4 linked regions of the Homo sapiens genome follow. The protein of the gene in region 1 purifies or fractionates together with the protein of each later gene. This does not show direct contact. Each region holds a gene or a part of one and is shown in the gene's direction. Other genes may lie near its edges.

Region 1 (5,077 bases):
CTCCGTCACGCAGGTTGGAGTGCAGTGGCGTGATCTCGGCTCACTGTACCCTCTGCCTCCTAAGTTCAAGCGATTCTCCTGCCTCAGCTTCCCGAGTAGCTGGGACTACAGGTGCCTGCCACCATGACTGGCTAATTTTTGTGTTTTTGGTAAAGATGGGGTTTCACTGTGTTGGCCAGGTTGACCTTGAACTCCTGACCTCAGGTGATCCACTCTCCTAGGCCTCCCAAAGTGCTGGGATTACAGGTGTAAGCCATCGCGTCCCACCAGAATTAACCCTTTTAAAGTGTACAATTCATTGACATTAGTACCTTCCACACTGTTGTGCCACCATCACCTCTCTCTAGTTCCAGAACGTTTCATCGCCTCAGAAGGGCATCTGTACCCATTAGCAGTCACTCCCTACCCCTCTTCCCTCAGCTCCTGGCAGCCACCAATCTGCTTTCTGTCTCCGTGGATTGCTTATTCTGGGTGTTCCCTAGAAACAGAATCATACACTATGTGGCCTTTTGTGTCTGGCTTCTTTCACTGAGCATGGTGTTCCATGGTTCATCCGTGTTTGTAGTGTGTGGCAGCACTTCATTCCTTTTTATGGCTGAATCATAGTCCATTGCATGGACAGAGCACATTGTGTTTGTCCATTCCTCAGTTGATGGACATGTGGGTTGTTTTCATCTCTGACTGTTGTGAATAGTGCTGCCATGAACACTCGTGTCCAAGTTTTTGCGTAGATGTGTGTTTTTATTTCTTTTGGGTAGACACCTAGGAGTGGAACTGACAGGTCATGCTAATATGACTTCTTGAGGACCCACCAAATTGTTTTTTTTTTGTTTTTTTGGTTTTTTTTTTGAGAGGGAGTCTTGCTCTGTCACCCAGGCTGGAGTGCAGTGACGTGATCTCGGCTCGCTGCAACCTCCACCTCCCTGGTTCAAGCGATTCCCCTGCCTCAGCCTCCCAAGTAGCTGAGATTACAGGCATGTGCCACCACACCTGGCTAATTTTTTTTTTTTTGAGACCAAGTCTTGCTCTTGTCCGCCAGGCTGGAGTGCGATGGCGCGATCTCGGCTCACGGCAACCTCCACCTCCTGGGTTCAAGCGATTCTCCTGCCTCAGCCTCCCGAGTAGCTGGGATTACAGGCACCCACCACCACGCCCTGCTAATTTTTGTATTTTTAGTAGAGACGAAGTTTAGTAGAGATGGGATTTCACCATGTTGGCCAGGCAGATCTCGAACTCCTGACCTCAGGTGATCCACCCACCTCGGCCTCCCAGAGTGCTGGGATTACGGGCATGAGCCACCACGCCCGGCTAATTTTTTTGTATTTTTAGTAGAGAGGAGGTTTCACCATGTTGGCCAGACTGGTCTCAAACTGACCTCAGGCAATCTGCCTGCCTCGGCCTCCCAAAGTGCTGGGATTATAGGCGTGAGCCCCTGCGCCTGGCCAATTGTTTTCTACAGTGTCTGCACCATTTTGTATTGCCACCAGCAGTGAACTGCATATTTGTTTTTATGTCACAGTGACCCTGGTTTTTGTTTGTTTGTGTGTTTGTTGTGGATTTTCTTCCTCCGTTATAATTAGATGCTAAGAGGATGGGGACTCCTATCTGATGGTTTTTGGGGAGTGGGGAGGGTTTTGTAGTCAGCACCCTGGGCAGTTGCGGTCACCATATTTGCTTTGTAAGCTATACTTTGAGTAAGTGTGATCATGGTAGGCCATGTGTACGCCTGTGGAAGTTAATTTATGTTATCTCTTTAGGCATAGTTACACCAAAAGTGATCTATGAGGAAGCAACTGACCTAGACAAATTCATCACCAATACAGGTATTTAATGTTACACTTTGACGTCATTTCTTCAGAAACAGATATGTCATTTCTTACAAGTAATATATACCCTCAGAGTGTATATTTTTGTTAGTCATTTAAAAAGGTTCACAATAGTTAGAAAGATCTGCCAGGAACATTTCATTTGTTCCTCGTTCTGTCCTGCTGGGCTTTAGAGTGCTCTCTGTGACCTTGAGCCTGCTCCTCCACAGTCCTGGATTCTCTGAGTTCCACCGACCCTTCTAGTTCCAGCTTCCGTGAACCTTTCCTTAAATGTTTGATAGTTAAATAATTCTTTTTTTTTTTTTTTTTTTTTTTTTGAGGCGGAGTTTTGTTCTTGTCACCCAGGCTGGAGTGCAATGGCATGATCTCGGCTCACTGCAACCTCCGCCTCCTGAGTTCAAGTGATTCTCCTGCCTCAGCCCCCTGAGTAGCTGGGATTATAGTCACCCGCCACCACACCCAGCTAATTTTGTATTTTTAGTAGAGACGGGGTTTCTCCCTGTTGGTCAGGCTGGTCTCGAACTCCCGACCTCAGGTGATCCACTTGCCTTGGCCTCCCAAAGTGCTGGGATTATAGGTGTGAGCCACCGCGCCCGACCAGTTAAAAGAACTTTTTAGGGCACAGCATTTTCACTTTTTGCTTTCTTTCCTTTTTTTTTTTTTTTTTTTTTGATAATTAAACTTTCCAATTGTGATGCAGCCAAATAAGTTACGTAGAGTTTGGCAGATTTTTTTTTTTTTTTTGAGATGGATTCTTGCTCTGTCACCCAGGCTGGAGTGCAGTGGTGTAATCTTGGCTCACTATAACCTCCACTTCCTGGGTTCAAGCAGTTCTCCTGCCTCAGTCTCCCAAGTAGCTGGGATTACAGGTGTTCACCACCATATGCCTGGCTAATTTTTGTATTTTAGTAGAGACGGGGTTTCACCATGTTGGCCAGGCTGGTTTCGAACTCCTGACCTCAGGTGATCCACCTGCCTTGGCCTCCCAAAGTGCAGGGGTTACAGGCGTGAGCCACGGCGACTGGCTCAGTTTGGCTAATTTTACCAGAACTTTAGTTTTTAATGAAGGATACTGTTTGTTTCTTTCTTTTCTTTTTTTTTTTTAATTGGAGACAGAGTCTTGCTCTGTCGCCCAGGCTGGAGTGCAATAGGGTGATCTCAGCTCACTGTACCCTCCACCTCCCAGGTTCAAGCAATTCTCATGCCTTAGCCTCCTGAGTAGCTGGGATTACAGGCACCTGCCACCAATCCCGGCTAATTTTTGTATTTTTTTGTATTTTTTTTTTTTTGAGACAGTCTCACTGTCACCCAGACTGGAGTGTAGTGACACAGTCTCCACTCACTGCAACCTCTGCCTCCTGGGTTCAAACGATTCTTCTGCCTCAGCCTCCCGAGTAGCTGGGATTACAGGTGCCTGCCCCCATGCCTGGCTGATTTTTTGTATTGTTAGTAGAGAGGGGGTTTCACTGTGTTGGCCAGGCTGGTCTTGAACTCCTGACCTCGTGATCTGCCTGCCTCAGCCTCCCAAAGTGCTGGGATTACAGGCGTGAGCCACCGCACCCGGCCTAATTTTTGTATTTTTAGTAGAGACAGGGTTTCGCCATGCTGGCCAGGCTGGTCTCGAACTCTTGACCTCAGGTGATCTGCCCACCTCGGCCTCCCCAAGTGCTGGGTGTCTCTTTCTGATGTGTTGTACTTCTCAAATTTATTCATTGGCTCATCAAATGTTAGTGGAGTTCCTACGCCGTAGTAGGGAACTAGATAGCGGGCCCCTGCCCTGGCGGAACTGACCCTCTGGTCTTTCATCTCACAAACATTTTACCAAGTGCATGCTCCATGGCAAGCTATGAGCCAGGTGCTGGAGATATAGAAATGAAAGGAACAGATCTCATTCTGGGTACTGTGATGGCATAGAGGAGGCAGCTAATGCTGACTTGGTGGGACCAGGGCAGGCTTCCTCAAGGAAGCAGTGACCGTGCCATGTTAGGGAGCTGGAGATAGGGAGGGCAGGGGCAGGGCACTTGGGGAAGGCCACGCAAGCAGAGAGAACCTCCCAGTAACAGAGTCAGGCTCAAAGAGGGTCTTTAATTTATGAACATATTCTTGTATTTGCAGAAACTCCTTTAAATAACGGATCAACCCCTAGAATTGTGAATGTGGAAGAACATTATATTTTCAAATGGAATAATAATACCATCAGTGAAATAAATGTTAAAATTTTTAGGGCAGAGATTAATGCCCACCAGAAAGGTAACTTTGATGAGGGTAGCAAGCATGCTTTCACTGAAAAGTATTTTTTTTTCCTCTTTTCAAGATTCTCATAATTATAACCCATAAAACTAAGTTGGACTTGTTTCTTATGTGCATTTATGATTTAATTAACGAGAGTACACTTTGTATGACAAAATGCAATTTTAAGGTAAACACTATGGAGAATAATTTCTTTTCCTAGTGAAATGGTGCACATTATATTTTATTTTGTTTTATTTCTAGGGATAATGACACAGAGATTTGTAGTAAAATTTTTAAGCTATAATAGTGGTAATGAAGAAGAATTATCTGGAAATCCAGGTAAGATGAGTATATGCCAGTCATTGATCTTACAAACATACTTTAGTTCAACACTCCCAGCCATCAGGATGGTTATAAGTAACTCTCTCCAATTTAGTTTCTGACTCTGACCTTTTTCTTTATTTTCTCTTTTTCTTTTTTTGAGACGGAGTCTTGCTCTGTTGCCTAGTCTGGAGTGCAGTGGCGCAATCTCGGCTCACTGCAACCTGCACCTCCTGGGTTCAAGAGATTTTCTTGCCTCAGCCTCCTGAGTAGCTGGGATTACAGGTGCACACCACCATGCCTGGCTTTTTTTTTTTTTTTTTAATCACACAACACAGGAAGTTTTATTCATCTGCTACTTCTCCAAAGAGAGGCTTGCAGGGTTGCTCACTTTAATATAATTTTTATATTTTTAGTAGAGATAGGCTGTTGTTCACCGTGTTGGCCAGGCTGGTCTTGAATTCCTGACCTCAAGTGATCCCCTGGCCTTAGCCTCCCAAAGTGTTGTGATTACAGGCATGAGCCACTGCCCCAGCCTCTTTATTCTCTGTTGTGGCACTGTATTCATTTTTTTTTTTTTTGAGACGGAGTTTAACTCTTGTCACCCAGGCTGGAGTGCAATGGCACGATTTGGGCTCACTGCAACCTCCACCTTCCAGGTTCAAGCAATTCTCCTGCCTCAGCCTCCCAAGTAGCTG
Region 2 (4,288 bases), on another chromosome or scaffold:
ATTGAGTTCCCATCCCAGTGCTGTTCTTGGTAACTTTGGCTGCCAGACCATGGGCCACAGCACCTGAGACAGTCACACAGGCCCTTTTGCCTCTGCAGCTCTCTGTCTGAACAGTCATAGTCCCAGACACCTCCTCACTCCATCCTCACCTGTAACCTCACCTTAGCGCCTGTCTGCCGCTGCAAAGATCTGTGTGGCAGCAAAGATGTGGGAGGTGGAAGTAGGGAGTGAAGCTGTCTGCAGGCGCAGAAGGGTTTCTTTAGAGGCTGGGCTGCCTCCTGCTGGTGCTTGGTGCACCTGCCATTGGTGCCCAGGCCTCACTAGGCTGGGCCCTGACCAGAGCTCTCGAGCCCCAGCTGCTCCTCTCCAGTTTCTGTAGCGTGGTTTGGGTTGGTCCAATGAGGTGATATGACATATTCAAGGTCACACAGCAAGGAAGGGGCAGAGCTGGACCAGAGCCTGGAATCTCTGCCCGCTCCTTGTCTTCTGACTGGGCTGTGCTGCTTGGGCCCAGGGTTGTCCCAGGTCCTGCTTCGAGGAGGCGGCCAGGTCCTGCTCGGCTGGACACTCCATTACTTCCCGTTTTTCCTGATGGGCCGGGTCCTCTACTTCCACCACTACTTCCCAGCCATGCTCTTCTCAAGCATGTTGACAGGTCAGTGCCACCCACCTGGACTTGGGAGACAGAGCAGGTGGAGGGCGGGCCACTGTTGGGCAGCAGTGCTGGGAGTGACTCTGCTCCTTGACGGGAGGCCACTGTGGGGCAGCAGTGCTGGGAGTGACTCTCTGCTCCTTGACTTGGAGTGCCTCCTTCTTCTGTAGCCCAGAAGTCACCCCCTGCCTGGCTGACTCCAGGTTTCTCTCCTCTCCTCTAGGCATTCTGTGGGACACCCTCCTGCGGCTCTGTGCCTGGGGCTTGGCCTCATGGCCCCTGGCGAGGGGCATACATGTGGCGGGAATCCTGAGCCTGCTCCTGGGAACTGCCTACAGGTGAGCATCTCTGCACCTCACATGCCCTCCCAGTGTGGGCTCAGCAGTGCCTCAGCCCTGATGCATTCGAGAATCCCCTGCGGTGCTTTTAACACCACCAGTGCCCATGCCTGGAGGTTCTGCGTCACCCAAGCCCAGGTGGGGCCGTGGTTTCCAGAGTCCCCCAGGTGATCCTAATGTGCAGCCAGGTAGGAGAAGCAGGGCTTAACTCTGCCTTTTCCCCTTCTGCCGGTGGTTCAGCTTTTGTGCCATCCCAGCGCACCTGGAAGGGTACCCCTCTAGTGACAGTGACTCTGTGCCAGAACAGCTCTCAGAGGGGGAGTGTGGGAATGGGGGGCAGGGAACCCCTCTTTAGTCACCATGGCCCCCTGTCAGAACAGCTCTCCGGGTGAGGGAGGGGGGAACCGGGGGGCAATGGGGGACAGGGCACCCCTCTTTAGTCACTGTGGCCCCCTGCCGGAAGAGCTCTCGACGGGTGGGGTGGGAAGGGTGGGAATGGGAAGTGTGTGGCTGAGTGGCTGAAAGGGAGAGTTGTTTGGAAGGCTCCCCGCTTCCCCAGTCCCTGGCCTTGGTGCTGGGCCTGTGGCCTGTGAGCACATGCCTGCCTAAGAGGGTTACATTCACATGTTGACAAACACCCCTGGCCAAATAGCCCATGACAAGACCCCTAGAAGGGTTGCCCTCCTGGGCCTCTTGGGAAGAGCCCTTTCCATGATTGTCATTGAGTCAGCATCTACTAAGCTCTCCAGCTACAGTGTGCCCCAGTGGGACTCAGACAGACAAGGCCGTGAAAGAGAACCGGGCTTGGCGATGGGGAATTTCTCTGGAGCTCCAGCAGGAGGAATGGAATTCAAAGCCCCTCAGCTGAGGCACTGGGGGTGCCAACTGCCTCCTACTGGTTCTCTCTCACAGCTTCTACCTCTTCCACCCTCTGGCTTACGGGATGGTTGGTCCCCTGGCCCAGGACCCCCAAAGTCCAATGGCAGGACTAAGGTGGCTGGACTCATGGGACTTTTGAGGCCACTGCAAAGATTCCAGCCTGGGTCCAGGAACTTCCCAGGAGAGCCAGCTGGGAAGCAGTACTGGACCATCCGGCCATGAGGAAGCTGCCTAAGGAGCCCGAAGAATTCTGCTGCTCACCAGGACCCAGCTCTGGGAGTGCAGCTGGAATGGAACCCAGCATTGGAGAGAGCCGGGAGAGAGCCGCAGCTCCGTCCACAGCACCACGGAGAGGACAGCGCCTCTTGGGCTGCTCCCTCGTGCACAGCGCAGGGGAGGATGGGTGCCAGAGGGTGGGAGTGGGTGCGCGTGTGTGTATGTGAGGGCATGTTGTCCATATCCCTGTGGAATACAGACCGTGTAACTGGACAGCTGAGTGTCATAAACTCTAAAATAGTCCAGGCTATAGTAATATTTTCTGGTATTTTTTTCTGTTGGATTTCTTTGGTTTTGGTTTGTAAGATCCATCAAAAATTCTCAGACCTCTGAGAGGGCCTTGAGGGCAGAGAATACTGACCTCACCTTGGGATGTCACCAAAGGCAGAGCAGATGGGACTGTCAAAGTTGTGCTGCCCTCCCTCCCACAAACAAATGAATCCAGCGTGGAGGAAGGCGCGCCGCCCCGAGCTGGAGGGCCTGGCTCCCACCATGCCCCCCAGTGGCTGCAGGTAGCTGGACTTCCTGCCTGTGACGCACAGAGAGCAGCGGACTCCGGAGCGTCAGCCTGCCTTAGCCCTTGGTTCCTCGTTTTTTGGGATTGTCACACTGTGACACTCGGGAGGAACGATGTCCTATCCTGGGCTGCTCAGTGTTCCCAGGCCCTGTGTGCCAGAGGCCAGGTCTCTCCAAGTGCATCTAGCCTGGCCTGGAGGGCAAGGCAGATGCATTCTCCTGGCTGCTGGGAGAGCCCATGGGAACCTTGCTTAGCGCCCAAGGTAGATGAGAGACAGGGCAGGGAATCTGCGTGGTGCTGGGATGTGGGGACTCTGGCCTCTCCAGACTAATGTTCCTGTCACCTGCTGAGCTTTCCCAGTGTCACTTCTGCAGTCCTCCTCTGCTCACCCCTCCCTCACTCCGTGGGCAATTCCCTTTCTCTCTGTCACTGCTTCAGCAGTGAAGACCCATGGCACCTAGAAATGCATGCCAGCTTCCTGCGTCTACCACTCTGCAGCTCAAACAAGAAGCTCAGAGCTGCCCCTTCCACTTCCTCCCCAAAAGGGATGAAGAAAACCCTGTGGTAGAACCAAACCACCCAAGGCCAGCCCTTAAGCCTGCCTCCACCTTCCTGGTGCATGACAAAATATTTCTTTTGTCTCAGAGGACTTTGATGCTTCAATATTTAATGATGAATCCGCCACACTCCATTTTCCCTCCTCTGAAGCTCCCAACAACTCTGACAGGGTCAGATCTCTTTAAAGCATCTTCAGGAGGCGGTTGCCACGGAGACTGGATATTGGTCCCAGGGACAGGCTGTGCTACCTACTGGGTGGTGGGGAGGGAAGCTTCTGGCCATGCTTGGGCATTCAGACCAACCATCATTAATGTTAATAGAGGAAATGCAGCAACGTCAAAAGCAAGGCAGGTTGGTTAATTAGATCTGGGGCCCGATGACCTCCCTTTCCCACTGCTACAGCCCTTTTGACTTCCCCCAGCAGGAAGCGCTGTCTGTGCGGCTGAGTCTGGGCCACTTGCTTAATTGCATTTCTGGCAGGGAAGGAGAGGAGGGATGGAGAAGCTCTGCTCGCTGCTTCCACCTCACCGTGTGTCCTCCCCTCCCCTCCCTTCCTCTCCTCCCCACAGGCGGAATTGCTTTCTTCTGAGCCGGGTGGGCTCTCCTGCAGGGAGAATGCAGGGGTCTGTGCTTGGCTCTTAGCAAAGCAGGTGGCCCACAGTGACCTCCAGGAGGTGGCTGATTTTCCTTTGTGCCTTCTTATTTCTCAGTAGGAACTTGGAAGGGAAGAGCTCTGAAGGAGCCAGAGGGGCAGCCACCTTGCATGAGGGTGAGGAAGGAGAAGCCCAGCCAGCCTCTACCCATCCCTCCCTCCCAATTAGGCTGCACTGGGGCCGAACGCTTCCCTGGGCTCCCACTGCCTTCTAAGGAGCCAAGGAGAATTCCCTGCCCACTTTCTGTTCCTCCATGCCCAAACTGGCAGATGCTTCTCTGGGAGCAAGGCCACATGGGCTGATGCAGCTTTGAGTGCTCAGGTTCTGTTTTCTGGAAGTTGCTGGAGAAGGGCTGTCAGGGTGCTTCTATGAATATGGGCTTCAGCTGTAGCACTTGGCAGAAACGTGATGTGTC
Region 3 (4,288 bases), on another chromosome or scaffold:
GATTGTCTTATCAGTCATTTGTTAACCAAATAATTTTTTACCTTCCAAGAGCTAATTTATGTTAGCAACCAATGTTTGTTTAAAGTGAGCTGACATAATTTGTCAAGTCTATTCACCCTGCCTGATTACTGAAATTAACATGATGTCATGAATACCGCTTATATCCTTTTTTAAAAAAAATCTGACCCCAGATTATAGTACAGGTTAATTTCTTTTCAGTAATCCTACCATTATTACTATTCTGATTGATTCAACCACAGAAAACACCTTCCATAATTGTTCAATCTGTCAGCCACACAGTTATATGTGAGTCCCTGAGCCTGTTGATTGTGATTAAAGTTACCGCTGTGACTAGTTTATAGTTACCAGCTCTTGGTTGTATCTGCTCCATTAAATGAACACTTTTAATCTGTAGCAAACATATACCTATTGTTTATTATGCGCCTTAGGAGAGCTTTAGCATCTGCCTTGGTGTTTAAACCAATCTTTAGCTATAGAAGTTTAAAAACATGGTATTTTCATTTTACTTAGAAATGACGGCCGGGCGCGGTGGCTCACGCCTGTAATCCCAGCACTTTGGGAGGCCGAGGCGGGCGGATCACGAGGTCAGGAGATCGAGACCATCCCGGCTAAAATGGTGAAACCCCGTCTCTACTAAAACTACAAAAAATAGCCGGGCGTAGTGGCGGGCGCCTGTAGTCCTAGCTACTTGGGAGGCTGAGGCAGGAGAATGGCGTGAACCCGAGAGGCGGAGCTTGCAGTGAGCCGAGATCCCGCCACTGCACTCCAGCCTGGGCGACAGAGCGAGACTCCGTCTCAAAAAAAAAAAAAAAAAAAAAAAAAAGAAATGACTAGGTCCTAGTGAAATTATTCACATATAAACTGGCATGCCAATTTAGTAACTTATAATGAAAATCAAACAGATTTAAATTCTTACCTGTTGCACTGTACTTACATCCCAGAAATAAAGTAAACTTGAGACTACATTTAGGTCAGAAGTAAAATACCTTTGGGTCTCCCTCACAACAGGGTTGGGCAAGTTATTTCTCTTTGCCTAGAAATGGGGTCAACACTCAGGTTACCAGAAACTGTATTAATGAGAACATTCAATTATATTTTTTGGTTACTGTGTTGTTTGGAAAGATACCCACAGGACTGTTCACTGTGTATTTCCACATCTCTGGTTCCTTTAGGCATTGAAGTCACTCAGTGCCTTTTTTTTGTCTGGGTATTTTAACTGATAGCTTTTTCTAGTATTTAGCAAAAGTTAGCTTTTCAGGTTAGTTTGTCCCCGCTACAAAACCACACTACAGTCATTCACTTTAACTGGCCTAAGTGGGCGAGAGTTGAGAATTTTAGCTGTGCTTCATTCATACATAATTGAAGAAACATTATCTGTTCCAATTATTAAGTAAAAATTAATTGTTTGAATGTATTAATATGTGGTATGATATACACAAAACCACGTTCCTTTACTAAGTGTGATTTGAGGGATTTGCAAAGGTAATTTTGTGTAAAAATTTTCACTTTATGGGCTAACCAGCTCATCCCCATGAAAGACGCTATGCTCCTATAAAAGTATAAGGAGTTATAAAATGATACTTATATCTTATAGTGCTTACAATAAGCTTATAATAAAACATCTTAAAAGTATCATTTCATACTTATATGAAACTTATATCATAAAAGTTTATCAAATGCAAGCATTTCCTTCTATAATAAATTTTTTTTACTTCTTCAATCTTGAATGCAAATTTTCTCCAGAAGTCAGATAAACATACTCACTTTTTCTTTATGCATTTATGATTATTTGTCCTTAACTTGAAATCACTTCTCCGTCCACACAGGCTTTTGTCTAGGACATCTTGTGAAATTTTTTTTTTTTTTTTTTTTTGAGACAGTGTTTCACTCTTGTTTCCCAGCCTGGAGTACAGTGGTGTGATCTCGGCTCACTGCAACCTTCGCCTCCCAGGTTCAAGTGATTCTCCTGCCTCAGCCTTCCGAGTAGCTGGGACTACAGGCACCTGCAACCACGCCCAGCTAATTTTTTGTATTTTTAGTAAAGACGGAGTTTCACCATGTTGGCCAGGCTAGTCTCGAACTCCTGACCTCAGGTGATCCACCCGCCTCAACCTCCCAAAGTGCTGGGATTACAGGTGTGAGCCACCACGCCCAGCCTCTTGTGAAATTTTTTTCTCAGAATAGCAATAGCTTATCCAAAGAAAGCTAGTGTACATCTTCCAAAGCTTTTAAAATAAAAAAGAGGAGGAGTTACACTTGCAGAATGTATATCTTCTGGGATGCTTCTCCCTACTCCACTGGACACTGTTTGAAAGTTTGTAGTTTATAATATTCTTACCTAGGCTGTGTTGGTCAGCTTAGAATATCTAAGTGATAGGATAAAACTAAAGCTGAGTGGCAAACTGCCAGTCTATATACTGCATTTAGTCTATAGGCTTGTTTTGTTTGGCCCACAAAGCATTTTATTATTTAAGTTTATGCCAACATTTAAGAATCAAGAATTTCCCAGACATTCAGATTTCTGACTTCAATTGAAAATCTGACAGTATAAACCCTATTATATTCCTGCATGGCATAAAATCTTCAGTTGCTGAATGGTGATATCCACTTTTAGAAAGAGTACTCTACCCTGTTCTGCATTCATACAACCTAAGCCAACCCGCCCTTCACCATCCCACTTCTCTTTCAGGTTATCTGCTTAGGCTGGTAGGCATTTGTGTTTATAAACCTTGAACTCAAGCTGCTAGATGGTCAGTTGCATTGTGAACTGAACTATCTGAATGATTTTTCATTGTAAATATATAGCTATAGAAACACTTTAAATTCCTCTTTCTATAAAAAGTGAAGTAGCAAAATTTTTGGACCATTCCCAAGGACAAACAATAAAATAGAGGGAAAATACAGCAAAAAAAAAAAAAAAAAACAAAAAAAACTGTAGACTTCACTATCTTCTTGTATGATTATTATAATATATAAACATTTATTGAACATTTACTGTGTGACCGATACTAGTGGTATTTTTAATCAGTGTTTTTTGTAAGTGTTGAATTCTCACAACAAACCCATGAGGTAAACAGCATTTGTTTATATGGTATTCTGCCACTTACAATTTTATACTATTTAGGGTTCTAAAGGGATCTTTAAATTTGAGAATTAATAAAACACATCATATGTCATGTCTACATATAAACCCTTTAAATTAAAAAATATATCTCTAGGAAGAAACAACTAGTTTTAAGGAATATGCAGTATCAATTGAAACCAAAACAATAAGTGAATTTAAAAGACAATGTAGCATCACAGGATCATGGCTCTAAACCTTTCTAAAATTATAATATTTAATTTGTGTTTATCACCAAGTGAATCATCTACTCTTTAGATTATCTAGGAGATCCATTGTCTGCAGTTTATATGGTAAGCATGGGCTTTGAGTCAGACAGACCTAGGTCTAAATCAAGTTATTTTACTTCTCTAAATCTGTTTTCTCTTCTATAAAATGGAAATTAATAATACTCATTGGGTTGTACAGATTAAGTGAGATCATTAAAGTAAAACAGCACAGTTCCTGGTACGTAGTATATATTCAGTAAATATTACTCTTGATATCATTATTATCAATTTTATCATCATTAACTTTTTTGGTTCCAAGCTTCTATAGAAGTAGCGTATCAAGAAGTTTTGAGGCAAAACAGAAAAGAGAAAAGCAGGTATTAAAGCAATGTTTTTCAACCTTTGTTGACTATCACCCATGGTAAGAAAATATATTTTATATCATGACCGAGTTTGCAACACACATGTACATAAAATAGACACAAAAGTTTTATGAAACAATGCCCTTACTATACCCAGTGCACCCACAATTTGTGATTTTCAGTATCACAACAGAAAATGTGATATTTTCTGGCCGGGCGCGGTGACTCACACCTGTAATCCTAGCACTTTGGGAGGCCAAGGTGGGCAGATCCCTTAAGTTCAGGAGTTCAAGACCAAGTCTGGCCAACATGGTGAAACCCTGTCTCTACTAAAAATACAAAAATTACCTGGAAATTACTCAAACCCGTGAGACGGAGGTTGCAGTGAGCAAAGATCCTGCCACTGCACTCCAGCCTGGGTGACAGAGCAAGACTTTTTCTCAAAAAAAAAAAAAAAAAAGATATTTTCTATTCTGGTTTATTCTGGTTTGTTTTTGTATTTTAAATGCTAGACAAAACCCACTAGTGGGTCACAATTTGCAATTTGAAAAACACTTTCAGAGGATACATCTCTG
Region 4 (4,288 bases), on another chromosome or scaffold:
ATTATAGGCGTGCACTACCATGCCCAGCTAATTTTTGTATTTTTAGTAGAGACAGGGTTTCACCATGTTGGCCAGGATGGTCTTGATCTGCTGACCTCGTGATCCACCCACCTCAGCCTCCCGAAGAGCTGGGATTATGGGAATGAGCCACCGCACCTGGCCCTCAGCCTCCCAAAGAGCTGGGATTACGGGAATGAGCGACCGCGCCCGGCCCCAGGTTTTTATATTTGGCAAAGGAGAGAACTGCATACCATTTCAGTCGTAAAATTATTAAAGCTTTCTTTTTTCTTTCTCTCCACCCCCTGCCCACCATATCAAATAGGGTTCTCCTTCCTTCTAATCTACAGATTTTCCTTTGGTTGCCATCTTTGTATACTTCTTAACTCTCCGTTTGATCAAAAGATAGTTTTGGCTGGGCATGGTGGCCCACGCCTGTAATCCCAATACTTCAGGAGGCCAAGGTAGGAAGATGGCTTGAAGCCAGGAATTCCATACCAGCCTGGGCTACAAAGCAAGACCCTGTCTTTACAAAAAATAAGAAAACTTAGCTGAGTGTGGTGACCCACACCTGTAGCTGCGGCTACTCAGGAGGCTCAGGCAAAAGGATCCCAGGAGTTTGAGGCTGCAGTGAGCCATGATCACTCCACTGCACTCCAGCTTGGGTGACAGAGTAAGACGCTGTCTCTTAAAAAAAATTTTTAAAGTAGTTTTAATAAATGGTAAGCCCTGGGGTTCTCTCTCCCTTTGCTTCTGGCCCTTCTGGTTTGGATTGAATAAAATCAAATCTGTTTTAAAAGAAGCCAGAAACGTGAAGAGTTTGCCCCCTCCCCTCCCTTGGTCTCTCACGTGTAGCAGCTGGACATGTTGCTGGCCTCTCAGGAAGCTCCGTGCCACGGGCCCCTGAGGTTGTCCTGTTAGTGTTTGGGGGACCCATTGCCAGTCTTCCCAGGCTCACATGCAGGCTCATGGCCAGTGTGGTGCCACCTTTGGGAAAGCCGGCCATGGCTTCTCCCAGCCCCCAGGGTGGGGTTCGGCGCAGGCGTCCACAGCCCCATCCCACCATTCCTGGGAGCGGGGGCTTTGCTGGCCACTCGAGCCCTGTGTCCCAGCAGCTGTACTACGTTCAGTTTCTTGCCCTCCCGGGGCCCCTGTCCACCACTCTCCAGCTTGGTGCCTCCCACCCAGCTAACTGGCACCCCTCAGCCTCCCATTCCGTCTTCTTCAGCCGGTTCCCTCGGGGCCAAGCCTGGGTTTTGCTGACTCTCCTGCCAGATTTAGACTGGGGGGCAGGGGCCATTTACCACCCTCCATTGCCCTCGTGGCCCAGGCCTGGTCAGACTCAGGGTTCTGCGACTGAGATCCTTCTGCCTAGAAAAACATTCACAGAGCTGGAAGTGTCAGATCACTGGTTACAGTATGAAAGATTCTCAAGTGTGATTTTTTCTCCAAACTTTCCATCTTGATGCGTTTTCAGATTTGTAGTAGTGCGACTAAGACAGTAGTTCAGAGAATTCTGCTAACCCTTTACCCGGATCTCCCAAACGTGAGCGCAAGCGTGACTTTCGAACCTCAGGAATCTGTTTCCACTTTTCCAGCATGCGTGGAGTGGCAGTGCTAACGGCTGGTGTCTCGCACTGTTGGCCTGTGAAGGTACGTGAAGCTGAAAGCCTGGAATGGCTGGAAAGGGGTCATCAGGCAGGCGGCCCCTGCTGCTGGGGCTGCTGGTGGCCGTAGCCACTGTCCACCTGGTCATCTGTCCCTACACCAAAGTGGAGGAGAGCTTCAACCTGCAGGCCACACATGACCTGCTCTACCACTGGCAAGACCTGGAGCAGGTGAGGGGCCCCTGCTGTCTTTGGGGAAAACCTCATGTTACCAGCTGGCAGGGCCCCGGTGCACTGACCTGCCCTTCTCCTCGCAGTACGACCATCTTGAGTTCCCCGGAGTCGTCCCCAGGACGTTCCTCGGGCCAGTGGTGATCGCAGTGTTCTCCAGCCCCGCGGTTTACGTGCTTTCGCTGTTAGAAATGTCCAAGTTTTACTCTCAGCTAATAGGTAAGGGGGTCTTCAACAAAGGAGGAGGGAGTGAGGGACTGTGGTGTCATCGGGTGACCTCAGCGAGGCCGCGGTCCCTCCTGCCCAGGAACGCTGTCTGTTAGTCTTGCCTGCCCTCGATCACCGTGGCATGGCGGCTCAGAGCAGGTGCTCAGGTCAGGCCTAAGACGTCTGAGTCAGCCCCTCTGTGCCTCCACACTCTTGACTGTGAAATTAGGGGTGACGGCAGGTACAAGAGAAATGCCGACTGCCTGTGAGGCAGCTCTCGCCACCTGAGCCTGCTGCTCCCGCCTCACCTGGCAAGCCCCCATGGGGTCAACAGCCTTTATTCCTGCAGAAGCAGCACCATTTGCCTTGGGGAATGTTACAAACAGAAACCTCACATTCCCAGAGGCCACCACTGCAGGGCCTGTGTGCAAATCCTGGGTCTTTCTCTGTGCCCACATGAGGACTTTAAAAAAAAAAAATTAGAACGTTTTGTACATATTGTTCTAAAAACCGATTTTTTTTTCTTTTTTGAGACAGGGCCTTGCTGTGTCACCTAGGCTGAAGTGCAGTGGTGCAATCATAGCTCACTACAGCTTTGAACTCCTGGGCTCAAGTGATTGTCCCACCTCAGCCTCCCACAGTGCTGGGATTACAGGCATGAGCCACCACGCCCAGTCACACAACCTGAGTTTTTGAAGTCAGCAATCACCACTTTTTTATTTCAGTACGCTTTTATTGCTTTTAATACCCAGACATGCTTCCAGCGAGTCAGTCCAGCTTGTGTGGAGAGCTTTAAGAAGTAGCACGTTCCTGGGGAAGGAGCAGTTCTGCTTCTTGAAGGGGCAGATTGGGAACGGAAACCCACCATGGCACGGGGACAGCTGGACAAGCCGTGCATGTCCTGTAGAGGCATCAGGAAGCCCCAAATGGGGAGGAGTTGGGGGGCCACGAGCCAGGGAAAGGAAGTCCACAGGCAATTCCGGGGCTGAGTCCACATTCCCTTGGAAGCTTCTGCTTATTCCAGGGTTGGCAGCAAGAGGTTGGGAGGTTGGGCAGAGCTGGGTGGACTCCAGCTGGACAGAACCTTGGAGGGCTGCAGCTTCAGCTGGTGAACGGGAGCCCACCCTGTGTCCTTCCTGATCCCACTAAGGTGACCTGGAATTGCTAGTGCCCCCCCCAGCCCCTGCCACAGGCCAAAATCCTTCCTCTCTGGATGAAGAGCATGTCATCCTGGGGCCGAGGGTGATCCCGGGGCCGAGGGTGATCCTGGGGCCAGGCTGATCCCGGGGCCGAGGGTGATCCCGGGGCCGAGGGTGATCCCGGGGCCAGGCTGATCCCGCGGCCGAGGCTGATCCCGGGGCCGAGGGTGATCCCGTGGCCGAGGCTGATCCCGGGGCCGAGGGTGATCCCGCAGCCGAGGCTGATCGTGAGGCCGAGGCTACCCTTGTTGGGCACGGGGTTGAGATTGTTGGGCATTTGGGAAGATGGAAAACCAAGAGAAGAGACGCAGGGGATGGACCTGATGGGGAAAAGGGGAAGCGGGGCTTTGCTGGGGTCTGTGAATTGTTTAAAAGCCCGGGGGAAATTCCAGCACCAAAAATACAGCAGCTGGAGCCAGACCCACTTGTGAGTATCAGTGAAAAATGTCCTATTAAGACATTCAGACTGGGCATGGTGGCTCACGCCTGTAATCCCAGCACTTTGGGAGGCCGAGGCGGGGGGATCACCTGAGGTCAGGAGTTTGAGACCATCCTGGCCAACATGGGAAACCTTGTCTCTACTAAAAATACAAAAATTAGCCGGGCGTGTTGGCATGCGCCTATAATCCCAGCTACTCCGGAGGCTGAGGTAGGAGAATTGCTTGAACCCGGAAGGCAGAGGTTGCAGTGAGCCGAGATTATGCCACTGCACTCCAGCCTGAGCAACAGAGGGAAACTCTGTCCTTAAAAAGAAAAAAAAAAAGACATTTGCAGTCCGAATCCAGCAATCAGTGAAAAGAAAATGCCTGGTATGCACATGGGGTATTCTGGGAACAGCAGGTCCAGCCCTCAGACATCCGTGGCCCCCTTGGCAGTGCCTGGGTATCTCTGCCCATTGGCCCCCACAGCTGCCTGGACCCAGTTGCTTCTCACATGGCTTCGAAGTTCCTCTGGCCTTCTGGAAAGGTAGCAAGAGCCACCCAGAAGTTCATTTTTCTTCCTGTTTTCAGTCTCTTGCCAGCGGCTGACAGGCCGGTCCACGGTGAG

Evidence for each region. Proteins that work in one complex are often made in the same cells at the same time.
Region 2: the proteins of TCTN2 (region 1) and POMT2 purify together in Homo sapiens (affinity purification with mass spectrometry; 2 studies listed by BioGRID and IntAct, with this or other methods). This does not show direct contact.
Region 3: the proteins of TCTN2 (region 1) and TCTN3 purify together in Homo sapiens (affinity purification with mass spectrometry; 3 studies listed by BioGRID and IntAct, with this or other methods). This does not show direct contact.
Region 4: the proteins of TCTN2 (region 1) and ALG12 purify together in Homo sapiens (affinity purification with mass spectrometry; 2 studies listed by BioGRID and IntAct, with this or other methods). This does not show direct contact.

What each region holds. Positions count from the first base shown.
Region 1 is NC_000012.12:123,690,901-123,695,977, forward strand, and holds part of TCTN2 (tectonic-2 isoform 1 precursor), read left to right. Parts: intron 1-1,757; coding exon 1,758-1,823; intron 1,824-3,941; coding exon 3,942-4,076; intron 4,077-4,319; coding exon 4,320-4,397; intron 4,398-5,077.
Region 2 is NC_000014.9:77,275,096-77,279,383, reverse strand, and holds part of POMT2 (protein O-mannosyl-transferase 2), read left to right. Parts: intron 1-514; coding exon 515-655; intron 656-875; coding exon 876-990; intron 991-1,902; coding exon 1,903-2,008; 3' UTR 2,009-4,288. UniProt on the Homo sapiens protein: Transfers mannosyl residues to the hydroxyl group of serine or threonine residues. Coexpression of both POMT1 and POMT2 is necessary for enzyme activity, expression of either POMT1 or POMT2 alone is insufficient.
Region 3 is NC_000010.11:95,676,140-95,680,427, reverse strand, and holds part of TCTN3 (tectonic-3 isoform a precursor), read left to right. Parts: intron 1-4,288.
Region 4 is NC_000022.11:49,911,151-49,915,438, reverse strand, and holds part of ALG12 (dol-P-Man:Man(7)GlcNAc(2)-PP-Dol alpha-1,6-mannosyltransferase), read left to right. Parts: intron 1-1,595; 5' UTR 1,596-1,673; coding exon 1,674-1,835; intron 1,836-1,921; coding exon 1,922-2,054; intron 2,055-4,288. UniProt on the Homo sapiens protein: Mannosyltransferase that operates in the biosynthetic pathway of dolichol-linked oligosaccharides, the glycan precursors employed in protein asparagine (N)-glycosylation.